Regions from separate parts of the Homo sapiens genome. Here all the other regions are reported to be linked to region 1. Evidence: microRNA targets listed by miRTarBase, many of them from high-throughput screens and not tested one by one. Region 1 holds a microRNA gene; each other region holds the end of a gene's coding sequence.

Region 1 (4,447 bases):
CGGCCTCCCAAAATGCTGGGATTACAGGCGTGAGCCACTGCGCCCGGCCTCTGCTGTTTCTTAATAGTCACCCAAGCATGATCCAACTTTGAATCTTAGAAGCCTAGGACCAAACTCAGGAGAATCTTTTTTTTTCTTTTTTCTTTTTTTTTTTTTTTTTGAGACAGAGTCTCGCTCTGTGGCCCAGGCTGGAGTGCAGTGGCACAATCTCGGCTCACTGCAAGCTCCGCCTCCTGGGTTCACGCCATTCTCCTGCCTCAGCCTCCCGAGTAGCTGGGACTACAGGCACCCGCCACCATGCCTGGCTAATTTCTTTTCTTTTTTTTTTTTTCTTTTTGTATTTTTAATAGAGACGGGGTTTCACTGTGTTAGCCAGAATGGTCTGGATCTCCTGACCTCGTGATCCGCCCGCCTCGGCCTCCCAAAGTGTTAGGATTACAGGCGTGAGCCAGCGCAACCGGCCCAGAGGAGAATCTTTTAGTCTTGCCTTTGGGCAAGAATGATCACAGAAAGAGAGCTATTTATCGCATTTTTTTTTTTTTTTTTTTTTGAGACAGAGTTTTGCTCTCGTTGCCCAGGCTGGAGTGCGATAGCATGATCTTGGCTCACTGCAACCTCCACCTCCCGGGTTCAAGCAATTCTCCTGCCTCAGCCTCCCAAGTAGCTGAGATTACAGGCTTGCACCCCCATGCCCAGCTAATTTTGTATTTTTATTAGAGTCAAGGTTTTGCCATGTTGGTCAGGCTGTTCTCGAACTCCTGACCTCAGGTGATCCACCCACCTCGGCCTCCTAAAGTGTTGGGATTACAGGTGTGAGCCACCATGTCCGGCTATCCCTTTTCAAAAAAAAAAATTATCCAGAGAAGATGATTGACTGGGCAAGAAAGATGCTCCCCAGTGGCTAGGTGTGGTGGCTCATGCCTGTAATCCCAACACTTTGGGAGGCCGAGGCTGGCAGATCACCCGAGGTCAGGAGTTCGAGACCAGCCTGGCCAACATGGTGAAACCCAGTCTCCACTAAAAATACAAAAGCTAGCTGGGCATGCTGGTGCATGCCTGTAGTCCCAGCTACTTGGGAGGCTGAGGCAGGAGAATTGCTTGAACCGGGAGACGGAGGTTGCAGTGAGCTGAGATAGTGCCACTGCACTCCAGCCTGGGCAACAGAGTGAGACCCTGTCTCAAAAAAAAAAAGAGGCCGGGCACGGTGGCTTACACCTGTAACCCCAGCACTTTGGGAGGCCGAGGCGGGCAGATCACCTGAGGTCAGGAGTTCAAGACCAGCCTGGCCAACATGGTGAAACCCCGTCTCTACTAAAATACAAAAATTAGCTGGGTGTGGTGGCAGGTACCTGTAATCCCAGCTACTCAGGAGGCTGAGGCAGGAGAATCTCTTGACCCTGGAAGGCAGAGGTTGCAGTGAGCCGAGATTACGCCACTGCGCTCCAGCTTGGGCAACAGAGCGAGACTCCGTCTCAAAAAAAAAAAAAAAGATGCTCCCCAGAGATAACCAAGTGCCCATCACCTGTCCTGTTCTCAGGGAAGCAAGTAAGTGCCTGTAACAGACGGGTTATTTATGACCCTGGGCAAAAATCTCCTAATCCTGATAATCTTCAGTTTCCTCACCTGTAAAAATTGGGAAATTTTATATTTATACATTTGTTGTGATGTTTACATTAGAGAATTTGTGTAAGGAAGTGCCTGGCATGTAGGAAGTAGGAATATTTCCTTCCCTTTTACTAATAATAAACTTTTGGATCAGTGTTGGGCACATACTAGGAGTTCAATAAATTATTGAAAAAGAGATGATCTACAGCACAAAAGTCGCTCACTTGGATACAAAAAAAAATACCCAGTGAAGAGGCCTACATGAAAATCCACCATGCCTTTCCTGGTCTGAGAGCTTTCGTCCCTGACAGATTATTCAAACTTCATTTTGTGGAGAGACCAGAGCCACACATCCAAACTCTGAAACAGTAACCAGTGGCACAGTCAGCAGGAGGACTCCCACTGACCTCCCTGCATCACATCCATGCATTCCTTGGCCCCATGCAGTGTCATGCCCACTTAATTCACTGAGTTCCAATTTGGGTCTCAAAATATATTAAAGGGAGATTTTAATAACGAAGCAGATCTGTGCATCCAGCGGATGTTCCTGTGTTCCTTTTGGACTCAGATATTTCTGAACAGCTTTTTCTGGTGAGGGACTAAACTTCCCTTCCTCCCCGGAGCCAGGATGCAGCTCAAGCCACAGCAGGGTGTTTAGCGCTCTTCAGTGGCTCCAGATTGTGGCGCTGGTGCAGGTCTCCTCATACGTAACCAATGGCTCCTGAGAGCCTGCGACTCGTAAATTACTTCCCACGATGCCGGCGACCACCGCAGAATTCAAGTTTGAATAGAGCAGGGAAAAGGTGTTTGAAAGGCCTGTTCACTCAGCTGCATTTTAATTTCCTTTTCAATCTTGTCCCAATTAATTTCACAGAATTAATCTCACAGAAGCAAACTCGGCAGCATTGAGGCTGTGGTTTTAGCGTGGCGGTCGCTCTGCCTGAACATGAAATAGGAGCTAATATAAAAATCCATCTGCTGTGTTTGAAATACACGCCGGCTGCTGCTCAGTCCTGTCTGACATTCCAAACATCAACAGTGGGGAAAAGTGATTTGGGGGTTAGTGGCCATCAGTACTTGGCAGGGGTTCAACAACAGGTGTACTCCAAAAATCCATTCGGCCTGGGCACCAGGCATGACAGGGCAGGTGCCGAATCACCCTCCGTGTGATAGTGTGGTGCCCTGGCTTAGTTCCTTTTATCTGCAGATTGCAAGACCCTTTTGTGGACCAGCACCACTGTGGTCACTTGTTTTTGTTTCTGTTTTTCTTGAGACGGAGTCTCTCTCTGTTGCCCTGGAATGCAGCGGCGCGGTCTCGGCTCACTGCAACCTCTGCCTCCCGGGTTCAAGCGATTCTCCTGCCTCAGCCTCCTGAGTAACTGGGACTACAGGCAAGTGCCACGGCACCCAGCTAATTTTTGTATTTTTAGTAGAGACGGGATTTTGCCATATTGGCCAGGCTGGTCTCGAACTCCTGGCCTCAGGTGATCCATCTGCCTCGGCCTTCCAAAGTGCTGGAATTACAGGTGTGAGCCACTGTGCTTGGCCTATGGTCACTTGTTATAAGTGGGAGAAAAAGAGGTAAGAAGCCTCTATTTGGATAAGACAAGTCACAAGTCCTAGCTTTCAGAAAAGTGACCCTGTCTTCTTGGCTCCAGTGTCTCTCACTAGGGAACATTCTTTCCAAATAATAATAATGCTTGTTGGCAGGGCGTGGTGGCTCACCCAGCACTTTGGGAGGCCGAGGCAGGTGGATTGCCTGAGGTCAGGAGTTCGAGACCAGCCTGGCCAACATGGCAAAACCCCATCTCTACTAAAAATACAAAAATTAGCCAGGCATGGTGGCGCGTGCCTGTAGTCCCAGCTACTAGGGAAGCTGAGGCAGGAGACTCGCTTGAACCCGGGAGGCAGTGGTTGCAGTGAGCCAAGATCATGCCATTGCACTCCAGTCTGGATGACAGAGCGAGACTCCATCTCAAGAAAAAATAAAAATCATCATCATCATCATCATCATCATGCTTGTTCCACTATTCAAGATAACTTTTTTTTTTTTTTGAGACAGAGTCTTGCTCTGTCACCCAGACTGCGAGACTGGAGTACAGTGGCACAATCTTGGCTCACTGCAACCTCTGCCTCCTGAGTTCGAGCGGTTCTCCTGCCTCAACCTCCCTAGTAGCTGGGATTACAGGCTCAAGCCACCACACCTGGCTAATTTTTTGTATTTTTAGTAGAGATGGGGTTTCACCATGTTGGCCAGGCTGGTCTTGAACTCCTGGCCTCGAGTGATCTGCCTGCCTTGGCCTCCCAAAGTGCTGGGATTACAGGTGTGAGCCACCACGCCCAGCCAAGATAAGACTTAAACGCCCATTTTTTTTAAAAGCATCCTGTTCCATAAGTTATTTATGGTGGTAACATGAGCTGTTCAGAAGATAAGGACAAATTAAAGAGGGAAAGAGAAGCTCTTTTTCAATTGACTAGGAAGGAGAAGAGGCCACTGGGTGAGATCTTCCATTTAAGGTAAACTGAGCCAGTGTACATCTCTTGGGCTTGGGTTGTGTGCCTCATAAATTGGTCTGAGGCTCTTCCAAGGAATTGTCCAGTGCCTTATTTCCATGGAAAGCAGCCTTGGAGCAACAAGTTGGGTACGCATAAGATTTATACTTACACGGTGGCTTAGCTGGGGTGGGAAGGTATTCTCATGGCCCAGACACACCAGGGTCTGGGTCATCTTCCTTGCTGATGGAATTGATGTGGAAACAGGGAGCCATACAGACAAAGTCAAGTTTAGCGTGGAACACGTGATGCTGTCAGATGGTCATGGGTCTTATGTGGAGAAGAATGG
Region 2 (3,000 bases), not on the chromosome of region 1:
AGTTTGAAAGTTTTGTTTTTAATCTTGCTTTAAATAAGTGGTTGGGTCTTAGATATTTTAAAACTTTAATTTGAATATAATTTTTTTTTCTTTTTTAAAGGTTTTTGATGACTGCCACGAAGGTGGTGAGATTTCACCATCTAACTGTATTTACATGACAGAGTGGCTCGAATTTTAATAGAGAGCTATGAACTTTATTGACATTTTGCAAATGAAGTTACTTAGGGAGCAGATAATTTAATTCATGATGGAACACGAAATCTCCTTGAAAGCAAACTTCACAATAATGGACGTAGACTTGCTGCTATGAAAACATATTTTTTTTATTTATGAAGACTAAATTTATATTGGTAAAATAGCCAGTAGAATATGAAAGAAATAAGGTTAGTAGTGAAATTCATTCTTCAATAAATAAAACACTTTGAAACTCCGGAGGACCACATCTTTCAAGACTTCTGATGGGTCAAGGAAAAAGATGCCAACATACCCGTATTTACCAAGTACTATGATAATGGCTAGAGTATAAAAATGTTCTTTTTAAAGTTATTTATTAAGTTCTTCATTGGAAGTTTTTTTTTATATCTGGTTCACTACCACCATTTTCTGTTTCCTACTTTCTCAGTGGTTTCATTGAAAAGAAATTAGAAGGGGTTAAAGGCAGGAATAGCAAAGAGTGCAAACTTGGGGTATGACTGGGGGAGAGTGGAACATGCCTTTTCCGCACAATATTAATTCCTTTTTGTATCAGAAATGTTCTTTTAGGAGATTATGCTACCATACTTACTTCAAACCCAATGACTACTGTCAAGGACATATTTTCAGTACATAAATACTATCATTTTCATTCTAAAGAATATTTTCACTGTTCCTTCTTTCTTAAAGTCTTATGTTTCACTCTTTAACTCAAATGTATTCTTTGTTAGAATTTACCCTAGATTCTTATTTAATGTCTGCAGTAGACTGAATGTTTGTGTGCCCCCAGAATTCTAATGTTGAAATCTCATTTCCAATGTGATGGTATTTGGAGGTGGGGCTTTTGGTAAGTGATAGGTCAGGAGAGTAACAGCGCTCATGAATGGGATTAGTGCCCTTATATAAAGAGACCCAGAGAGCTCCATCACCCCTTCTGCCATGTGAAAGGGAGAAGACAAACATCCACGAACCAGGAAGTGGGTCCTCACCAGAAAACAAATCTGTAAGCACCTTGATCTTGGACTTCTCAGCCTCCAGAATTGTGAGAAATAAATTTCTGTTGTTGATAAACCACCAGTCTATGGTATTCTGTTATAGCATTAACTGAAACTAAATATACTCCGTGCCCTCCATTCACACTTTATTTTGAGAGAGGGGATAACATTCTTTTTCTCTTACTCTGTTTTAGATTTATTTCCCTTCCTTATTCTGTTCTAAATCATGGTGTGATGTGTCTAAGCAGAAAGCCATTATAATTGTCCTCAGTTCTAATAACACTTTCAGTTCCTATGGTCAGCCACATAGAAAACACTAGGTTATTTGATGTATTGTTGCACAGAAGTTGACTGTGCGGCTTTTTAGAATTGCAGCTTCATATTTTCACTTTGTAGCTCCACTTAGAAGTTTCTGTATCCAAGCCAAAAACATGGGACCCATGGAAAGGAATTCAAGCTCCACTAGTACTGAGGGTTGGGTTCTAATACCAGTTTGGAGATGCTCTAAGTGGATATCAGAAGAGTTATTTTAAGATAAATGGTATCAGTAAAATAAAATTCAGGCCACATTCTGTGAATTAGCATTTGATGACACTAGCTCTTTGTAACAAAAATTATTTCAAGTATTGAATATACATACATATATAAGATACACAGCCTTTTGGCCAGAACCCCCATCTTCCAGTAATTTGCCAAAATGATGAACACAAACGGAAAGAGGAGAGGCACCCGATATATGTTCTCTAGGACTTTTAGAAAACATGGAGTTGTTCCTTTGGTCACGTATATGCGAATCTATAAGAAAGGTGATATTGTAGACATCAAGGGAATGGGTACTGTTCAAAAAGGAATGCCCCACAAGTGTTACCATGGCAAAACTGGAAGAGTCTACAGTGTTACCCAGCATGCTGTTGGCATTGTTGTAAATAAACAAGGGCAATATTCTTGCCAAGAGCATTAATGTGCATACTGAGCACATGAAGCACTCTAAGAGCCGAGATAGCTTCCTGAAATGCATGAGGAAAATGATCAGAAAAAAAAAAGAAGCCAAAGAGAAAGGTACCTGGGTTTGCCAGGGATGGTGGCTCACGCCTGTAATCCCAGCACTTTGGGAGGCTCAGGCGGGCAGATCACGAGGTGAAGAGATCGAGACCATCCTGGCCAATATGGTAAAACCCTGTCTCTACTAAAAATACAAAAATTATCTGGGCATGGTAGCGCACACCTGTAGTCCCAACTATTCAGGAGGCTGAAGCAGGAGAATCGCTTGAACCTGGGAGGCGGAGGTTGCAGTGAGCTGAGATCGCGCCACTGCACTCCAGCCTGGTGACAGCGAGATTCCGTCTCCAAAAAAAAAAAAGAGAGAAAGTTACCTGGGTTCAACTGAAGTGCCAGCCTGCTCCACCCAGAGAAGCACACTTTGTGAGAACCAATGGGAAGGAGCCTGAGCTGCTGGAACTTATTCCGTATGAATTCATGGCATAATAAGTGTTAATAAAAGATCTCTGGACTGTAAAAAATTATATATATAAATATATATAAATATAAATATATATATAAATATATATAAAAATATATATGTAAATATAAATATATATATATGTAAATATAAATATATATATATATATATATATATATATATATATATATATATATATATATATATATATATGAAGGATCTGGGAACCTGAAACTACAGACAGAGGGTTTCTCTTCCACCCTCAGTGAGAGTTGGAATGGTAAGAACAATGTCTGTCCTTCCTGGGACTTGGCCTATCAAAAAGGCACTAGTTTTATGTAGTAAGAAAAATGA
Region 3 (3,000 bases), not on the chromosome of region 1:
CATAAGAAGTACCATGGATCCCAGGTCTATGTCACCTTCGCCGTTAGCTTCTACCTGGTGGCAGGAGCTGGTGGAGCCTCAATCCTGGCCACGGCAGCCAACCTCCTGCGCCACTACCCCACAGAGGAAGAGGAGCAGGCGCTGGAGCTGCTCTCAGAGATGGAAGAGAACGAGCCCTACCCGGCGGAATATGAGGTCATCAACCAGTTCCAGCCACCCCCTGCTTACACACCCTAATGCCAGCCCTGGGCTCTCTTCCTCGGCAGCCCCTCCCTCAACTCTGCAGCTCCTCTCGCACCCAGAGGAGCTCCTTTCCCCAGCAGGCCTCACTGGTAGGATCCTGACCATCTTCTCCAAACCTTCCCCAGGAGAGACTCTGCCTTTAGGGTCATCCAAGTATCCCTGCTCTCAGAACCGGAGGTCCACTGGTTTTCTATAATGTACTCTTTCCCTCCTGCCACATCCTGCCCCCTTCACATTCACGAGTCATTACCAGCCAGGGAAGGTCATCCAAGTTTCCTCCAGCATGGGCGATATCTTTGGGACCGAGACTTTCCTTGGAGAGCTGCTGAGAGCGGACAGTCCCAAAAACAAGTGTCAAAGGGCCCAAGGGAAAGGGGACTGTGCCCTGGAGGCTCACTTCACAGGGATCAGTGTTTGCTCCACAGCTGTAGCTCTGGGCTGACGCCCCCCAGACCCCTTCCTTCTCGGAGTGACCCGCCCCCAGGCCACCTGCTCCGGGGAGTTCTGTGCACTTTACTCTTTGGACTTCTCCTCACGTGTGCCCTGGTTTTATGGGGAGAGGGAATCGCTGTTGGGAAGGCAGAGCAGTTGCAACCCTCTCTGCCCTTGCTTCATGTGGCTGGAGCCCAGGCAAGGAGAGCAGGAGCCAGCGTGAGACTGAGGCCCCCTGGTGCCTATCAAGGACCAGAGTGAAGGGGACTACATCTCCCAGCCCTTCACCTTTTAAATATGAGTGGTTTTAAAAGGAAAAAAATGAAACCAGGCAACAGCAACAATATTCTGTTTTTAAAATAGGGACAAGACTGTTGTCACTTTTTAGACATGTATCCCATTCCTTTTGGCTCTGCAATATTTGGGGCTGTAGCTCCTTCCAAGCCCATGGTAGTCCCTCCCCGAGTCTCTCCCAGTAGAATGCAGCCTCCCTTCCCTGGCCCCTTCCCTCTCAGTGACGGTGACTCCCTGGGGCCTTCTCGTGGAACCCAGAGGGGCTGAGGACTGTGGCCTGGCTGGCGGGCCAGCGTGGTGCTCCTCAGGACTGCAGCACTGAGATGGAACCTGGCCTCAGTTTAGGAACAGGGGCCACAACAGGGCAGGAACCCACCACCCTCCACATAGGAATACAACCAGTGGGGCCACATCATGTGAGGCATCAGACCCACACTGTCAGCCCAGCAGGCCGGGCTGTGTCCTTCAGACCCAGTGCTGCCCTAGACTCTGACTCGGGACTCCAGCTTGCCACGTGCCCTCTCCCCTCTTGAATGTACTCTGGTCTTGCAGTGTGCTGCTGGGACTTTCTTGCTCAGCCATCACTCTGGTCACCTTGTTTGCTCTGGGTCTGGCTGAATTTTCTGCCCTGAGATCTGGGCATAAAGTGGATGAAACTTGAAAGACCTTCAGTGTAGATCCAGATGGCCAACCTGTCCTTGTTAAGTTACTTGCTTCTTGGGAATCAGTGTCCCCTGCTGAGCTGAAAAGGAAATGGATTCCAATCTCTTCCAACCTTTAAGGTGATAGATAGTTTGAGCAAGACTGGAGAATGGACAACACTATGAAGCTGTGGCTAGAAAGGGACTGTCATGTCCCATCCTTTGGCCAGATTGACTGGGGATGTCCGGACAGATGCCTGCATGGGTGGTGAGGGCCACATCTGCACACGAGCCAGTGGCTGCTTGCAGTTCACTGCTGTGATGCCAGAGTGTGTTCAAAGGTGACTCTCCTGCTCTTCTGGACTCTTCTCTCAGGCAAGAAAGGCTGCAGGCTGCCTGCTATGTGATGCCTGAGCACAAAGCCAAGGAACTGAACTAAGTCTTTCTGTTAAGTCCTGAGTTTGTCATTGGCAGGTTTACTTGTGGCCAGCTCTCTCTGCCCTTGGGTGTCTGAGCAGGCAGACCAGAAGACCAGGCACTGGACCTGCATGCCAAAGGGACTGGTCATCTCCTGAGGACCTGTAAATGACCCTGTGGACTGTTCCGCACGATCCGGAACCCACTTTTTATTCACTCCCCATGTCTTTGGCCTTCCTCTTCTTTCTCTTTCCCTCTGCCATCCTGACACTGATAGTTTGTCATATAAATTCCCCGGGTTGTGTTTTTTTTTCTAGAAAAAAATTAAAAGGGAAAACAAAACCAAAAAAACCAGAAACCACGAATAAGAATGGAAATGACAATGGCTGCCTGTCATTTTTCTGTCACGATTTTCCTGATTTGGTTTGTTCCCTTTGTCTCAGAGAAGCAGGAGATGTTGATGAGGCTGTATTTTTTTTTCTTTTTCTTGTTTTTGAGACAAGAGTCTCGCTCTGTCACCCGGGCTGGAGTGTAACGTGGCATGATCTCAGCTCACTGCAACCTCTGCCTCCTGGGTTCAAGCGATTATCCTGCCTCAGCCTCCTGAGTAGCTGGGATTACAGGCATGCGCCACTATGCCCAGATAATTTTTTTGTATTTTTAGTAGAGACAGGGTTTCACCATGTTGGCCAGGCTGGTCTGGAACTCCTAACCTCAGGTTATCCACCCACCTTGGCCTCCCAAAGTGCTGGGATTATAGGCATGAACCACCGTGCCTGGCCAAAGATGTAATTTAAAATAGTTAGAAGGGACTTGGCATGGGCCAGCTCCGTGCATGGCATTTTCACCCCCAGAGCTTCCTAATCCTGTTTTCACACAGGAAGTTTCTAGGTCTTTCTAGAACAGCTAGAAATAGTAGCTGACTCCCGCCCAAGGCCCAACCTTCAAACCCTGAGCTCTTCAGGCTGCATCC

What was found. The annotated mature microRNA hsa-miR-1203 reads CCCGGAGCCAGGAUGCAGCUC and lies in region 1 at 2,222-2,242, shown strand. An mRNA with a match to its seed (bases 2 to 7 or 8) in the 3' UTR can be bound and repressed. Matches are read on the target gene's strand: a 7mer-m8 pairs with bases 2 to 8, a 7mer-A1 pairs with bases 2 to 7 and ends in A, and an 8mer does both.
Region 2: miRTarBase lists POLR3F as a target of hsa-miR-1203. Seed matches in the 3' UTR shown: 7mer-A1 at 428-434.
Region 3: miRTarBase lists TMEM127 as a target of hsa-miR-1203. Seed matches in the 3' UTR shown: 7mer-m8 at 735-741.

Annotation. Positions count from the first base shown.
Region 1 is chr17:48,154,281-48,158,727 of GRCh38, reverse strand. It overlaps MIR1203 (microRNA 1203), which reads left to right and starts at 2,217; the gene lies at 2,217-2,301. The region is part of intron 11 of SKAP1 (src kinase associated phosphoprotein 1); the gene reads left to right.
Region 2 is chr20:18,483,381-18,486,380 of GRCh38, forward strand. It overlaps POLR3F (RNA polymerase III subunit F), which reads left to right. Exons shown (of 9, transcript NM_006466.4): 9 at 101-1,266. The coding sequence ends at 178. It also overlaps the pseudogene RPL21P3. Among named protein-coding and RNA genes, the nearest start is that of RBBP9, 12 kb to the right of the region's middle.
Region 3 is chr2:96,251,045-96,254,044 of GRCh38, reverse strand. TMEM127 (transmembrane protein 127) reads left to right here. Exons shown (of 4, transcript NM_017849.4): 4 at 1-3,000. The coding sequence ends at 237. Among named protein-coding and RNA genes, the nearest start is that of TMEM127, 13 kb to the left of the region's middle.